Linked DNA regions of Homo sapiens: region 2 is linked to region 1. The links come from fine-mapping of genetic effects on gene expression. A gene starts in region 1. The other region holds a variant in brackets. All regions are shown on one strand. Distances are between the middles of the regions.

The links. PIP is the estimated chance that this variant, and not a neighbour inherited with it, causes the effect.
Region 2: its variant is fine-mapped to the expression of DPYSL3 in blood mononuclear cells (TOPMed, PIP 0.92).

The regions. Positions count from the first base shown.
Region 1 is chr5:147,505,364-147,513,710 of GRCh38, reverse strand. DPYSL3 (dihydropyrimidinase like 3) reads left to right here and starts at 3,643. Exons shown (of 14, transcript NM_001197294.2): 1 at 3,643-4,233. The coding sequence starts at 3,853.
Region 2 is chr5:147,472,087-147,480,433 of GRCh38, reverse strand. All of the region lies in intron 1 of DPYSL3 (dihydropyrimidinase like 3), which reads left to right. Among named protein-coding and RNA genes, the nearest start is that of DPYSL3, 34 kb to the left of the region's middle. The variant A/G (reference allele first, on the strand shown) is at 4,034.

The sequences.
Region 1 (8,347 bases):
TCTGACTTACAGTATCTATAGACATACTGTTGCTCTTGTGTTTGTGATTGTCACAAGTAATGTATCCTCTGTCTTACTAGAAAGGGACATGACAAAATTGCCATGTGTTCATGGGGCTAATACCTTTGCTTGGAGTCGAGTGGTCTGATATTTCCTTATGTGAGTGTTTGCCTTAACCAAAGTTAACTTCTGTCCAAGAACAACTGGGGCATTTAGGGATATTTCATTCCATAACACCTTAACTTTGGGCTTCCCATTTATTACTTCTCTGGATCCTCATGACAGCGATCTATTATGGGTGTTTTTTTAAGAGCACAAGTTCTGTCTGAATCAGCTAGTGGGAAGTTTGAATTCCAGTTTGAAGTACTAACTGATACTTCAGGGAAAGAACTCAACTTCACTAAGGCTCATTTTCTCCATGGATAAAATGGAAATAATCATCACTTCAGATTTATGGGGTTCTTATGAAGGTTAAGGCAATGTTTATGAAATTCTAAGCACAATGGCTTGCTCCAGGAATGAAGTCCATAATAATTCTATTCAGTGGGAGGCAAACATAAAGGAGAAAAACACAAATAGGTTAAGCCAGACATTTGCCTAAAGCCACATAGTTGCAGAACTGGAGCCAGATCAGCCATTCCCATTTTAGTCTTTCTAAAATTTTAATAGGCTGCTGTACTTTCTTAATTAAACACATATGTGTACATGTAACTGTTACTTTTAAATGTGATACTTTGTCAACAAATGTAATTATTGTGCCTATACACTGCATCAGACATAGTGGTGAGGCAATGCAGCTATAACAATGGGGCTCACGTACAACTACGAAGTTCTGTTTGTATGCCCATGTTCCCATGCAAATATGCACATAAAAGTGTGTGTCTACATTCAGAATGTGCCCTCTCTCAAAGTAAACAGACTCTGCACGTATCCTCCTTCAAGTTATGACTCTTTTGTAACTTGGACATTCATTCAGAGCCTCTGCTTCCTCATTAGTAGAAAAGAAATAATAGGCCAGGTGCAGTGGCTCACTTCTGTAATCCCAGTACTTTGGGGGGCCAAGGTGGGCAGATGGCTTGGGCTCAGGAGTTCAAGACCAGCCTGGGCAACATGGTGAAACTCTGTTTCTGAAAAAAATACAAGTTTAGCTGGGCATGGTGGCACACCCCTGTGGTCGCAGCTACTCAGGAGGCTGAAGTAGGAGGATTGTTTGAGCCCCAGGGGTCAAGGCTGCCATGGGCTGTGATCGGGCCACTGCACTCCTGCCTTTCCCATCTGTCTCAAATGGGAGATGCTGTCTCAAACAAAAAGAAATGCTAGTACCAGACAGGTAAGGTTATTAAGATTAATTAAGATACTGCCTGGATGTCCTTAGCGCAGAGCCTGAAACTAATAAAACCTGGATAACCCTTAACTGTAATTGTTCTGAAGCAGCACTCACAGGAAATTCTGAGTCCATCACCAACCAGCATTTGTTAAGAAGGAGCAGCTGCCCAAAGGAAGTCAGCTTAAGAAGTCATAAATAATTCTGATAGAGCACAGGCAGTTTAGCAAGTGGCTTTCTCTTCACTGGGGATTGGGTTGTTGTTGTTGTTGTTGTTTTGTGTGGAATTTTGCTCTGTCGCCTAGGCTTGAGCCCAGTGCCGCAATCTCTGCTCACTGCAACCTCCACCTCCTGAGTTCAAGCAATTCTCCTGCCTCAGCCTCCTCCCAAGTAGGTGGGACTACAGGCGGGTGCCACCACGCCCGGCTATTTTTTACATTTTTAGTAGAGATTGGGTTTCACCATGTTGGCCAGGCTGATCTTGAACTCCTGACCTGAGGTGATCTACCTGCTTCAGCCTCCCAAAGTGTTGGGATTACAGGTGTGAGCCACTGCGCCTGGCCAGGGGATAGGTTTAAATTGTGTCAACATACCTGTCTTTGATCTAAGTTCAGGCCAACTTCCATTCCTCAATATTTTGTGGCTGTCACAGACCTGAGACTGACATTCCAGTTTCCGGAGCCTTTGTTCCACTCCAAAATCAGAGTTCAAAGGTTAATTTCATCAAATTCTATGTGGATGCCTTCAAAGAGTATGTCTATGCGCACAAAGAAGCCGGCCATATGCTTATGAGCATTAAATGAGTTAATATATGTGAAACAATTATAATAATGACTGGCACATAGCAATAACTCCATAAACATTTTCTGGTGCTGCTGTCGTTGTTATTGTTATCCTCCATTTGTTCAAAAAGAATGTATCAAGTGCCTGTAGATGTTCTGGGCACAAGATATACAAAGGTGAACTGAACAGACCAGATCTCTGCCTTTATGGAGCTTAGCATGTATGTGTCCATACTTGGGAGGGGGAGTGTTTAGTTCACAAAATAAACAAAGTTCTGTAAGTTGAGCAGAACAGTGAACGGCTGTGCTACCTAGATGGGTGGTAATAGACTACATTCTTGGTGAGGACAGGCCGATCTCTCTTGTTCGACACTGTTGCTCCAGCATCTTGTGAAAGCCATAGTGGGTACCTGATTTATGTTGGTTGACTAAATAAATAAATGGGTGACTTTCTGAGAGGGAGCACAGTTAAATCCGGCACAACAGGTTTTGGGTTTAGGTGGTGTGTGCAGATATGATGTAAGGTATGTAGTTTGCAGGTTCTGTTTATGTGGCAGAGTCGGCGTCAGAGTATACGTGGGTGGACGTGGGGAAGAGAATGAGGTTATGAAAGCACAGATGTACATAAGTAAAGTCTGCATACATCTGAGGTAACATGAAAAGCAAAGTCTTTGGTTGTGTGATTTTTGAAGTAAATCTGGGCTTAGGTGTGAATCTAAGTGTCGGTTCCGACTGAGGTAAACCTGGACTTGTGTCAGTGTGTGAGATTAAAATCTGGGGTTTGTTGTATGAGGGACAGAGCATCAATGAAGAGTGCTTTGCAAGGCAAAACCTAAGAATGTGTGTGTGTGTGTGTGTGTGTGTGTGTGATCTGAAATGAGGCAAATTAGGGGTGGTAAAAAGCAAACTAGGATATTATATAGAAGCTAAGAAAGGGCTTATGTGAGCCAAAGGGCTTTTGTGACTCTCAATGAAGTAAGAGGGCTTCTCTCTCAGTGTGTGTTTGTGTTGTGTGTGTAAGCCAATTCAGGACTTCATGTGAGAGTGTGGGTTTGCAAGGCAGATTCTAGAACTGGGTGTAGTTATGAGTGTCATCCTAAAGATCAGGATGAGGCAAGTCCGGGGTTCCGGGTAGGATTGTGAGTCTGTCGTAAATTTGAGTTTGTATGTGTTAGTTGTAAATCAGGACTTGGCTTTGAGATGAATCCACCTGGGTCAGCTGGGTTTTTGTGCACGAGGGACGTCAGAAAGCTTTGTGTTTGTGAGGCAAACTAGGGAGTTAGTGTGGGTGAAGCAGTCAAGTGCTGGAGTGTGAACATTTCTAAGACGTCTAAATTGCGCGAAAGTGTGTGAGGCAAGGCTGTTGCGCGAGCGGGCAGTGTGCGCCTGTGTGTGCGTGTGCGCGCGCGCCAAGTTTGGTTTGTGATTGTGATGGGCACCGACGCTGCGTCAGCCCGGGAGGCCACGTTAGGGTTGGGGGTGCGTGAGGAGGTGCGGCCGGGCGAGAGGTCCAGCGAGTGAGCCAAGCGCGGCGCTACTCTGGGCCCCTGCTCCGCGCGCTAGCTGGCTGTGTGGCTCGCTGGCTCGCTAGGGACAAGCAGGAATCGGAGCAGCACTGCCGCCTCTGGCGCGAAGGCTCAGGCGCCTCCTCCCGCCACAGTCACTGTGGCTCGGCGCACGCTGCCGGCGGCTGCCCTTTCCGCCTCTGGGGAAGAAAAACCCGCGGGCCGCTTTCGTGCTTGAACCATGGCCTCGGGCCGGAGGGGCTGGGACAGCTCCCACGAAGACGATCTGCCCGTGTACCTGGCCAGGCCGGGCACCACGGACCAGGTCCCGCGGCAGAAATACGGCGGCATGTTCTGCAACGTGGAGGGCGCCTTCGAGAGCAAGACGCTGGATTTCGATGCCCTCAGCGTGGGGCAGCGGGGCGCGAAGACTCCTCGGAGCGGCCAGGGCAGCGACCGAGGATCGGGGAGTCGGCCCGGGATCGAGGGGGACACCCCGCGCAGGGGCCAAGGCCGGGAAGAGAGCAGGGAGCCCGCGCCCGCCTCCCCCGCCCCCGCCGGGGTAGAGATCCGGAGCGCCACCGGCAAAGAGGTGTTGCAGAACCTCGGCCCCAAGGACAAGGTAAGGGGGCCCCGGGTCACTTCCCTCCTTGCCTTCGTTCCTTTCTCCAGCCCTGGCCGCCATGGCCCGGGCACAACTTTCTCCAGCTCACTTTGCACGGGGCTGGGGGACAAGGAGGAGGAAAGGGTCATCCTCCACTGAGCGTAGCGCGACTTCCTAGCCCAGACCCTGGATTCGCGCGTGTCGCCACTTGCAGCATCTTCGTGCAAGCGCGGAAGGGATGCCCGGGTTCCCCTGCCTGGAGCCGCGTCCTTTGCCCCTGCCTCCTCGCCGCACTCCTGGGCCATCCGGTCTGGGTGGGTGTGTCAGCCCGGGAAGGCTTAGTGATTTCCAGCTCTTCTCTCTAGTAGCCAACAGCACAATTGTCTTGCCCCCCTCTGGCCCTAGATTAAATCTCAACCCGGGTCACCACGGCAGAGGGCAAAGTGATGCTGGGAATATGGGGGTCATCTCCATAGTGCCCGGATGAAAGTACTGGAGGGGCGGTCTCCCCTCTCAGTCTTCAAACATCAGCTCTGTCCCTGAAACTTTTGGGTGTGGAGCCTCTAGACTAAACACGCGAATCTCTCTCTATGCCTCGCTTGTGTCTTAGCACGGCATTTCACATCTGTGTTTGTAAAGAGTGTATTTGTGTACATAGCTTGGCACAAGACTGGGTATTACAGGGGTCCAGCTGCCTCTGCAAGAATAGCATTATATTTTAGAAAATAGACGAGAGTATTAAGAGTGCACATTAAACTAGCATGAGATGCAAATTCCCTGCTGCTCTTAAATGTGCCAAAGCCAATTTCTTCTGTATGTGTATTTTTGAGAAACTTATGTCACACTGAACTGACTGAAGGGATGGCATTGAAATCTAGCTTGCCCTGATTTATGTGTCTATTTCACAGAGACTCAGAGATGTAGTTCAGAAAATGCAGGGCCTGGCAGGGCTGGAGACTTCAGAGTTCAAACTGAAGCTTTCAGTTGGGGAATAATAATAATCAGATGCCCTCACCCTTGTCTAGGTAATGGCCGCAAAATCCATCCGCATGTATTATTCTGCACTAATATGGTTAGGAATAACAACCTGAAATGGAAATGTCTGCCTCAGAGCAATTACAGTTAATGCTTATTCAGGTTTTAGTTGTTTTTCCATTAAAATGCAATGAGCTAGTGAAAGAACAGCATCTCTGTTCACTGTTTGATTTTTGAAAGTTTAGACAAACCAACCAACCAACCTTTGACTACTAAGACCACCAGGGAAAATAAGTGCTGAAGTTAGTGCTGTTCAAGGGTACCACTTGGAAAACAATGTCGGCTTCCTCTGAAATCATTCATTTAGTTTGTGATTTTCACATCATCCTTTTAGTGCGTGATTCCCCTAAGCCCTTGCTTACCAACGTTTTAGGGAAAACTTCTGATATTTTGCAAATGTTTTGGTTGATATCTAAACTGAAGAAGAACCCTATAGAAAGGTTATTCCTTTCTTCATGTCTGACTTGTCCATATTGAAATGTTCCCTTCCTGACTGGAACGGGCGGGAGTAGTGATGGAAAAGGTCGGTAACAATTGCTGTGAGTCAGTGCTATTCCCTTTGCTGAAACACCCCTGATGTAAGCCAGATAATATGCTGGGTTTGCAAGATTTAAGAATGGTAACTAGAGAAAGGGAAAATATTCCTCCTTTAAACCTAGCAATTCTCCCGTTTTCCTCCCTTTTGCAAACCCTATACTTTTGGCTACTAATTGAGAAATAATAATACAACCTAGGCATCAGCAGGATTTCTAGTGCTACATAGTCATTTGTAAGTTTGGGCTTGCCATCTGCTTCATCCAGGCCATGTTATTATCTCTAATTTGGTTGAATCACACTGTTAGAAGAGACCACGGAGGTTATCAAGTTCTGAACTTGTTGTTTATTTCCTTGAGGGTAGAGATTGTGTATTTGGATTTATCTATGTGGCTAGAATGCTTGGCACATTGGAGGTGCTCAATAAATGTTTGATACACTAAACCTCCTTAATTAAACCATCTGTTTTGCCACATAGCTGGCAAAATGATCATCTGGCCTCTGCTTAAATACAACCATTGTCAGGGAGCTCACTACCTCATGAAGCAACTTTTTGGACAACTTTACTTAAAAAAAAAAAAAAATTAAGCCCAAATCTACCTACCTGTAGTTTCTACAAATTATTCTTAGTTCTGACCTTTGGAAATATAAGGGTAAATATATTTCCTTATTATGAGACATTTTAATGATTTTTAGGTATGTGCACTCTTGTATCTGTCAGAAAAGGCTGGGTGATGCCATAGTAACAAACAACCCCCAACTCTCAGCAGCTTAATAAAAAACATAACAACATATTTCTTGCTCCTATTTGTCCAGTGTGAGTCAACAGGGAAGCTCTATTCATTATTGTGCCTAACTTGATGGAGGCTCCATCTCTACACATCTGTGTATAGTATGTGGCAAATTGTATACACACTTAATTCCTTGCTGAAGTAATGAACATGATGTGTGCTCACATTTCATTGGCCGAAAACCATGTCTATACTCAGCTTCAAAGCAACTGGTGGAATACAATCTTGCCATGATCCTGTAAGACTAGAAATATTTGGCAAATAGCTCTAATATCTCTCCCAGATCTAGAGATGAATTAATGGAGTGAAATCTGTCCCAACCTTTACTAGTTATATGACTGTAAGCATGTAACTTAGCCTCTGGGTACCTCAGTTTTCTCCTGTACAAAATAAGGATAATGGTGACTACTTTGCACAGTAGTATTCAGTACATATTAGTTATTACTATTACTCTTCAATTTTAATGCCCGTTACATGTATGAGGGCAATTATCTCATTCTCCCTAAATTTCTTTCTTACCCTTATTATTCCTAGCTTCTTCAGTCTTCTCTTGTATGAGCATTTTACCATCCTGATTTCCTTTTCAGGTTATATTATATTACATATTTTGTAAATATTTTTCTCAAAATACAGTGCCCAGAACTGAATATGTTGCTTCAGATGGGATATGACCATGGCGAAGTGCATTATGTTACTTAATTTTTTGGACTTTTACGGAACATATGCATCTATGACTTACTATTGTCTCCATGGCAAACACCCTGCCATTCAAGCTTTCAGAAACTTTTTTCACGTAAGCTGCTGTTAGGCCAGGATGTTCCCCTTCTATGCTGGTACAATTTAATTTAAAACAAACCACCCCCAAAAAAATCTTAACTATAGGATTTTATTTTTTCTTCCTTCTATAATATTTATCACTATCTTAGCTCATCTTTCTATTATATCATAATAATCTTAAACCTTAATTCTATAATACAGCACTCCTACTGCCAGCTTTGTACCATTTGTTGATTTGATAGTATCACCTTTTGAACACTTTCTGTGTGCCTATACTAAATAGTGCTCAAAAGGTCGTTTCCTCACAGAAAATGGTTATAACCGATAAGGAAATTGAACCCCAGAGACTAATTGTTTAGTCCCAAATCACATAAATAATAAGTGGGGGGAGCCAGAATTCACAATCTGATTTTTCTGATTCCAGAGTCTGTGTTCTTTCCAGGTGGGGAGGCTGCTTCCTTATTTTAATATGACCAGCCTGGCCGTCGTGTCAGCTCCTGACATGTCAATATTATTCAGAGCAAGGACAGATTTTCCTGCCACACCTCTAGAACCCTTCTTCTATTGTGCCACCAGCCCATTACACAGGAAACTTTGAGACCAGTTGTTCAACCTTGGAGAACAGTTGCTGCAAAATCCTTATTCTTTCAAGTTGATTGCAGAGCTATCAAAAGATATTTTAAGTGTCTTGGTAAAATCAAAATATGCTTTGTATCTAGCATACCTAATTATTAACTTCTATCTTAACAAAATGAGTTTATTTAATAAATTGTAATGAGGTTAAATAACAGAAGTGTTTACAGAATAAAAATATAAAATAATAGGCTGGGAGTGGTGGCTCACGCCTGTAATCTCAGCACTTTGAGAAGCCAAGCTGGGCAGATCACTTGAGGTCAGGAGTTTGAGAACAGCCTAGCCAACATGGTGAAACCCCCGTCTCTACTAAAAATACAGAGATTAGCTGGGCGTGGTGGTGGGCACCTGTAATCCTAGCT
Region 2 (8,347 bases), 33 kb after region 1:
ATGTTGGAAGTTGAAAGAGCGAAAAGAGACATAGACGTTAATCCAGAGAAAATAACTAGAGGAAGTGGCAACCACCCAAGGCTGAATGAATAAGGAGGGGTGCTGCCCTACAGGTTCATTGCCCAGATTTTGGAGGAGGGATCTCTACCTGACTGCTCCTAAGAGGGTGTGGCAAAACTGGGAGTGACAGCGCAAAAAGAAGCTGGAGGCCGGAGATGACTGCCGCTACAGGAGTGATGCTGGCAGGAACAGGCAAACGGGAAAGAGATTCTGTTGTCCTTTCTTTCGCCTTTTATTCTCTACGTGCTGCCTTCTGTTTGCAGAACTTAATAGGAAGCTAGCTGGTTAAGAATTCTGAGTCATGTAGTTTGCAGAGTAGTAGCCAAGTAGAAATCAAAGAGTATAAAGTGGTGAAGGCTGGGCTTAGAGCTGACAAACAGGAGGAAATAACAGGAATAATTGCTGTGCCTTGGTCTCATCACTGTACAATGGGGATAATACCTATATCATTAGATTCTTTTGGAGGATTAAATGAAACACCACTCAGTTGCTTGCTGATTGCAAGTGCCCAATAAATGCAAGCCTTTATATTATTCTTATTATGCTAAGCCTGATTTCTGTGTAGTCTGCTGCCTGTGCCTGTTTTACAGTGGGACTTGGGTGTTATGCTTGCTTCAGGGATTATCAGGCCATCTGGGAAGCTGGCCTTGCTAAGCTCCATGTGGAGAACAGGCTTCAAGACTCAGCATTGGCCCTTGTGAGTCAAGATGGGAACTTTCTCCCCAGAGATATTTAATTAGCTGGTTGTCAGAATGGTGTTGATAGATAAGATGCCTGTCTTAGATTGGCTCTGTGGTTGCTCTGATGTGGGATTCTCAGTTTATTTCATTTGTCACCCTGCTTCCTCTTTTTCCCAAAATAAAACCCCCATTGTGTTTCACCTCCTTTTTTCATTCTCTCTTCAGACAAGATAAAATGTCCTTCACTGAGTTGACAAGACTTGCGCTCCTAAACAGTTGTCCTGTGCACTAGGGATTTATGTTGCAGCATCTCTTAGAATATACAGCCAAAGGCGCTGAGACCTGAATTTCAGCAGCATAGCCCGGCAATTAAGGATTTTGATTGTGGAGTAGACACAACCAGGGTTTAAATCCCTGCTCAGTGTTTTATTAGCTCTATGACCTAGGGCAAATAACCTCTCTGAGCCTCACTTCCCTCATTTCAGTAATTGTATGTGTATCATATGTTGTTGGAAAAGTAAGATAATCCCTGTAGTGCTCTAAATCCAGAATGCTTCACAGTTTGAAAACCCTCAATAAGTAGTAGCTACTATTACTGCCTGTCTACACTTTTTTTTTCCTTTAATTAACTCATGATGTACTCAGGTAGAATTTATTAATGTATACATTCCACAAAAATTTATTGCTCACCTATTAGATGCCAGACACTGTGCAAATACTTGATAAAGAAAAATGAGCAAAAGGCAAGTCTGATCTGGTGGAAATGGAATAAAGTTTTTGTCTTCAGGGTGCTGACAGTTTGGGGAGACAGTGTCCCGAGGCTGACACTTTCCCTGACACACTTACAGTACAGTATGATAGGCAGTACAGTAGGGGTCTCAGAGAAACAAAGGGCCCCAAGGTCCCACAGACAGATAGAGAACCAACCTTGAGGGATAAGAAAGGTTCCCCACAGCCTCAATGTACATTTGAGATAGCCTGGCAAAATATATGTGTATGATATGGTAGTGGAAATGCATGCTGGTGTGTGTGGGGGGCAGAGGATTTCCACACAGAGGATCAATAAAGGAGAGAGCATGGCATGCTCAGGAACCTGAAACACTGTAGACAGTGGCATAAGTTGAGCAAAAGTCAAAGGCAGAGAGGACAGTCAAGGCCAAATTACACAGGGTCATACGGAGTGCATGTAAGGCCACAAAACTTAACAGGCATCTTGGACTCTCTTGGCTGCCTTCTTCTTTCCAAAGGTACCATCTTCTTACACCATACTTCTTAGATGTTATGATGTGTGTCTAACCAATAATCAGTTGTCTCCTTCTTTCTTACTGAGGCAACCCTGATTTTTTTGTTGACAGAGGCAATGTGCCCAGCTTAAAAAACTACATGTTCCAGCCTCCCTTACAGATGTAGTTATGCAGAGCTGAATGCAAGTTCTAGCTGATATTAATGTGTATAAGCTGGAGACGGAGTAAAAATTAAAATGTCAGAGTGTGTATTAAGAAGACCTATGAACTCCCTCTAACAGACCAATGAATACAAAGGGAATGTGTGAAGTTCTGTGAGACTGAGAGATATCTTATGTAGTGCATAACTTAGGATAAATCATTAATTGAAAAACATTTTTATGAGAGCAATAATGAAAAAGAGAGCTCAAAATGTAAGATACAAGAGACATGAATTCTGGTCCTGGCTGTAAAAAGCAAAATTGTGATTCTGGACAAGCTCTAAGAAAGGCAGTCTTCCTTTTCTCTCTGCTTGCCTTTAACATCTTTTCTTTATCTTCGCAGTTTTGCAATTTTAGTAAAGATTTAGGGCCGGGCGCGGTGGCTCACGCCTGTAATCCCAGCACTTTGGGAGGCCGAGGCGGGTGGATCATGAGGTCAGGAGATCGAGACCATCCTGGCTAACAAGGTGAAACCCCGTCTCTACTAAAAATACAAAAAATTAGCCGGGCGCGGTGGCGGGCGCCTGTAGTCCCAGCTACTCGGGAGGCTGAGGCAGGAGAATGGCGTGAACCCGGGAAGCGGAGCTTGCAGTGAGCCGAGATTGCGCCACTGCAGTCCGCAGTCCGGCCTGGGCGACAGAGCGAGACTCCGTCTCAAAAAAAAAAAAAAAAAAAAAAAAAAAAAAAAGATTTAGGTGTTTTTATTTTTCCTTCTCTGCACTCAATGTACTTTCTGAATCTGAGGATTCACATCTTTCAACAATTCTGGAAATATCACAGCCATAAATTATCTCTGTGAATATTGCCGCTCTTCATTTTCTTTCCTGTCTGGAGCTCCTCTTAACTTTATTGTGGATCATCTTTCTAATGTCCTGGTCTCTTAATCTCTTTGTTGTGCTTTCCATTTCTTTTCATTCAGCCAGGGCTATCTGGTCATAGTTATATCCTGGCTCACAAATTCTCTCTTCATATGTAAATAATCTGCTGTTAAACCACTCATTGAGTGTTTCATTTCATTGGCTATTTTTTTCCCACTTCCAGACAATGTATTCCGTGCCCTATTTTAAATCTGCATTTTCTGTTTTGATCATGTCTTGTTCTTTTCCTGTACTTAAATATTATCTGAATTGGGAATTTTGTCCGTTTAAACATACTGATTTTATTTTTTCTATGTAATTGTTTTATTTCATGAAGTTTTGAGGGAACTGGGGGGTACTTATTGTGTCTTAAATCTTGCTCAGAGTAGATTTTTTAAATGTGTCTGGTAATTTTTAATTGTGAACTCATGTGAGTTGGTGCTTTTTCTGAAAGAATCTGATGAACCTGATTCTAAAGCATCTAAAGGGTGTCTCTTTCTAATGCTTTTGTTTTTTGCCAGATACCCCAGTGGTATCTTTGCAATGAACATTGTTCATGTTAATATTTCACTTTAGGAATTCCTAAAATAAAATAAAATAAATGCCTAAAATAAAATTCAAACTTACCTGAGGGTCTTCTATTGTTACAAATTCTGAGGAGACTCCTCCCACAATACTCCATCAAGAACATTGGCCAAGAAAAATAAGCTCCATGTCATCACTCCATATACATGAGAAGATTTCACCAGTTTGCATTTTTCACTGAGAGACCAAAATTTACATGGAAGTCTCTGTCCAAATTCCTCCCCCTTTGATATGGACCAAAGGGGTTCATCTCTTTTCCTCTTTGAAGCGTTAAAACTCCAACTCTTGGTTACCAAGATGGGTAAATCCCCATAAGGCAGCCAAAGTGTCAGCTCTCCTGCTTATTTTTGTCTTCATTTCCCTTGTTTTTACTCCTAAATATGCATTAACATATTTTGCATTGGAAG[A/G]ACTAAATGATCTAATCTACCATATTTCTCTACTCATCATTACGAATATCAATTATTTTACAGTCATAAAAATTATCCTCTGATTGGACCCTGGATAACTGAAATTTTATGTTAATTCAAACAAAATTAGTTTATTTCTTCTTTTAACTAGATGATCATGGAACTAATTAGTATTGGGACTTAATTTTTCATTTTAAAATTATAAGTTAATTCACTTTTTAAATTTAATTTTGAATTTCATAATCGAGTTTGTGACCATTTGTATCTGTATCAAGTCCAGCTCTAGCTCTACCACTTACTTGCTATATGAGTTTGATCAAGTTACATAATCATTATGCCTCAGTTTTCTCATTTGTGAAAATGGCCATAATAATAGTATCAACCTCAGCAGGTTGTTATGAGAATTAAATAAGTTTGTACAAGTAAGATATTTAATAATTTTACTTCCCATCATTATTACTATTGTTATCTGCAGAAACAGAATCATAATAATACATTCATTTTTGAGGATATGTTAATTGATGCTACTTTGTGATCATGATCTTAATCCAAATAAATTAACTTCGGGTGTTTTTCAGGATAACTGTCTGCTCAAAAACCTTTACAAATATTTTCAAGAGTTTGAGTCATCTTCTTCATTATAGCATGTTAAGACAACCCTTTAAATGAGATTACTTCTATAGTTTGTAATTACTTTGATCTTTGCACCTTCCTAGGGCATCTTTTATTTATTCTGTAATTTAGTTTCTATTTATACGTTAACTTTGAGGCTCTGCTTTCATCTGTTCTTTCAAGGTATTCTTTCTATTCCTTTGAATAATTTTCCATTTTGAGCAATTTGTTTTAGGATTTTAATCTTTGTTTCAAATCTTTTGCTGTGATGAAGTTGTTTCAATTCTAAGAACCATCTCAAAAACCATATAGATGCCAGCATTCGGTTCTGGGTATATTCTTCAACACTTGACTTAGCTTTGCTTTTGAAGTGCTATTATTTTAACGTTTTATTTTGAAATGATTACAGACTCACAAGAAATAACAAAAATAGTTCAGAGATCCCTTGAACACTTCACTCATCTTTTGCCAATGGTCACATCTCACATAACAGCAATATGATATTAAAACCAAGAAACTAACATCTGTACAATACTGTTAGGTAGGTGGCAGGGCCTTATTCAGATATCACCAATTTTTGAAGGATATTTGGGGTGTTTCCAGGTTTTAGCTATTATGAATAGACCTGCTATGAACATTCCCCTACAGGTTTTTGCGGGGATGTAAGTTTTCATTTCTCTGGAATAAATGCCCAGGAGTGCAACTGGTAGGTTGTATGGTTACTGCATGTTTAGTCTTTTGGGAAACTGCCAAGTTATTTTCTTGAGTGGTTGTACCATGTTTCATTCCAACCAGTAATATGTGAGAAAAGTGCCATTTTTCATACATACTCTCCTTTAAGAAAACCTAATCTATGAAAATCCAGATTCCAAAAAATAAAGGATTTTTTGAGTGATGAAAATGTTCTACACTTAGATTGTGATGATAGTTACACAGCTCTAAATATACCTTAAAAACCACGGAATTGTATACTTTAAATTGGTGAATTGTATGGTATTGTTATATCTCAACAAAGTGTTTTAAAAAAGGCTATTACATGAGATGATCTAATTATATTACAAAAAATCTTATTTATTCACCAAATTTCTAATTTATTAAGCATTTACCATGTGGCAGGCATTATGTACAGTGCTTTCTATGCATTACCCTATGTAATCTCCATACAATCATTACCTCCAATTCATAATAAACACTGTTGTAAAAGAAGATAGTATAGAGTGGCTAACAAGGGTGAAGTTCTGGCACAAGACTGCTTGAGCTCAAATCCTGACCCATTCACTAATTAGCTTGTCATTTAACCATTGTCAGCTTCCAAATCCTTTTCTGTAAATGGGAATGGTAAAAGTACTTCCCTTTGTGAGGAATAAATGAAAAAAATGCAGATAAAAGCACTTAGGATTCTGCCTGCGTAGTATCATTATCATTATTATTAAATTCATGAAAAGACATTTTCCTCTTAGCAGTTCATAATTGCTTGATAACAGTGTTATGAGAAAGTGAACTATGTGTATTAATAAAAGATGACAGATTTTGTCATTATGTGTATGGGAGGACAAAGGAAGCAGATGACATTTACTGTTCCCCTATGATGCACCAGACACTGTACTTACTAGCCACCATTGTGTACATGATATCTGAACAACATTGTGTGATGAAAGTATTATTCATCCCCATTTTATAGAAAAGGAAACAAACTCAAAAAGATTAAGACAGTATTTCCATTTCATAAAGCAAGTATTTTATGTAGCCAGGATAGAAAACCAGGTGTTTCTGTGTCCAGAATTCATAATTTGCCTTTTCACCTATGAAAATAATTGATAAAAATGAGACTTTGCCTCAAACACTGCATTTAAGTTACAGTATTAAGATACTTGCAGCTTTTCTTTCCTCTTTATTCAGGAACAAAAATTTAGCATTTCTAAGGGTGTCACATTTAAAATATATTTAAAAAAGAAAATTGGAAGTCCATGTAGTAATTCAGAAAGGTCCCCAAGGTTTAATTCCACCTGAATTTCCAACTGCTTAGAAGTTGAATCACCATTTAACTGCAAAGGGCAAACCCATTGGTGGAAAAGTCCATTGCCAGAAGAGCTCAGCAAGAAGTGAAGAAATACATTCTAGAATTTAGAACAAGATGAGGCATCCTGTGCTGAGCTCAATCAGAAACAAAACAAAACAAAACAGAACCCCCAAATGAATTCCAAACTAAGAAGAAGAAAAGAAAATTGTTTGTGATAACATTTCATTCACCATTTCTCAAGTTTATTCACCTGTGGATTAATCTTTATATTCTTTCTCTTTCTTCTTCAAACTCCCTTCTCTTTAGAAGCTGCTAAGTGTTGTAATGGAAGCAAAGATGGGACTTTAATGTCAGCTTATTGAGAAAACCAACAAAGTTTTTTCTTTTGTAGTGAGTCTCAAAGATTATGTATCTCATTCTTCAGGTTTATTACTGAGGAACTTGGCTGTTGGTCTCCACTGGGAAAGAAACACAAGGATATGGAATTCTACTTGGAAAACTCAGGTCTTCCTGTTTGCTGGATAAATACAGAGACAAAATCACAATGAGCCCTCTCACATTGATGTGAAAAAAGATCTTTGGATAGAAACCTACTCATTTATTCTCAGGACTTTAAGTGCCCTGCTTCATGTTTTGGCATGTTGCAACTGACTTTATTTTATTTATTTTATTACAAGCAAGAGAAACAAAGTCTGGTTCCCGTATGATTTAAAAAAGAAAACAAAAGAAAAAGACTTGGGTTGGGTTAGGAGTTTCTCTGAACCATGAAAATGACCTCAATATTGGCTGAAAAATTTGACAAGAATGAAAAATGGCATGGTACAAGCTCCAGGAAGATGTTGCAGAGATGAGCTTCAGATGCATTTCATTTTGCGTTGTTATTAATGGCTTGGAAAGAGGCCATAAACCTATTATGGTAATTATGTCTGCAGATGAGGGTAAATAGGATGGTGTTATAAACACCAGTAAGCAAGAGACGTAGTACAGAGCAACCTAGGGAGATTAGAAATATGGACAGGAAATGAACAAACGAGATCAGCCTGGAAAAGTGAAAACATGCATCTGGAGAAATACATAATTTGAAAAACAGAGAGATACTTAAAGGCAGGGTCATACTTGGAAAGCAGTAATGGTAAATAGGCCTTTGAGCAGATATCAGCCCTGGATAAATTTGTAACATGATGGAAAAATAATACTCAGACCTGGTGTTCATATAGCCTTTCAAAATGCATTTTTTCCCAAACAGAGGCATTTCCATTATCTCATTTGATCATCAACCCAAAGAGGTTGGAAGCAAAGAATTCTCCACTGAAGAAATGAAAAGAGGTTAAGTGAATTGCTTAGGGTCAATTTGTTAATAAAATAGACATGGCTAAAACTTGGGTGCCTTGACTTTTCTTTTTCTTCTTTCACTATAACACCTCATCATTATGTCTTGCATCTCAGAATAGTAATTATTTCTGGTTCAGCACTTAGCCATCTCTTTCTGATGTTATGAACAACTTTATTTCATTTGAGACTGAGCATAGCATTACTGAACATTTGAACAGGGCATAACCTATGCCCCAAACCTATTTTCTAGGATGAAGTGAGGCAGTGTGTAATGGATGGTGGATCTCTGGATTAGAAGTCGGAGCTCTATACTAGTAGTATCACTAACTACAGTGTTGGCCATGGGCAAG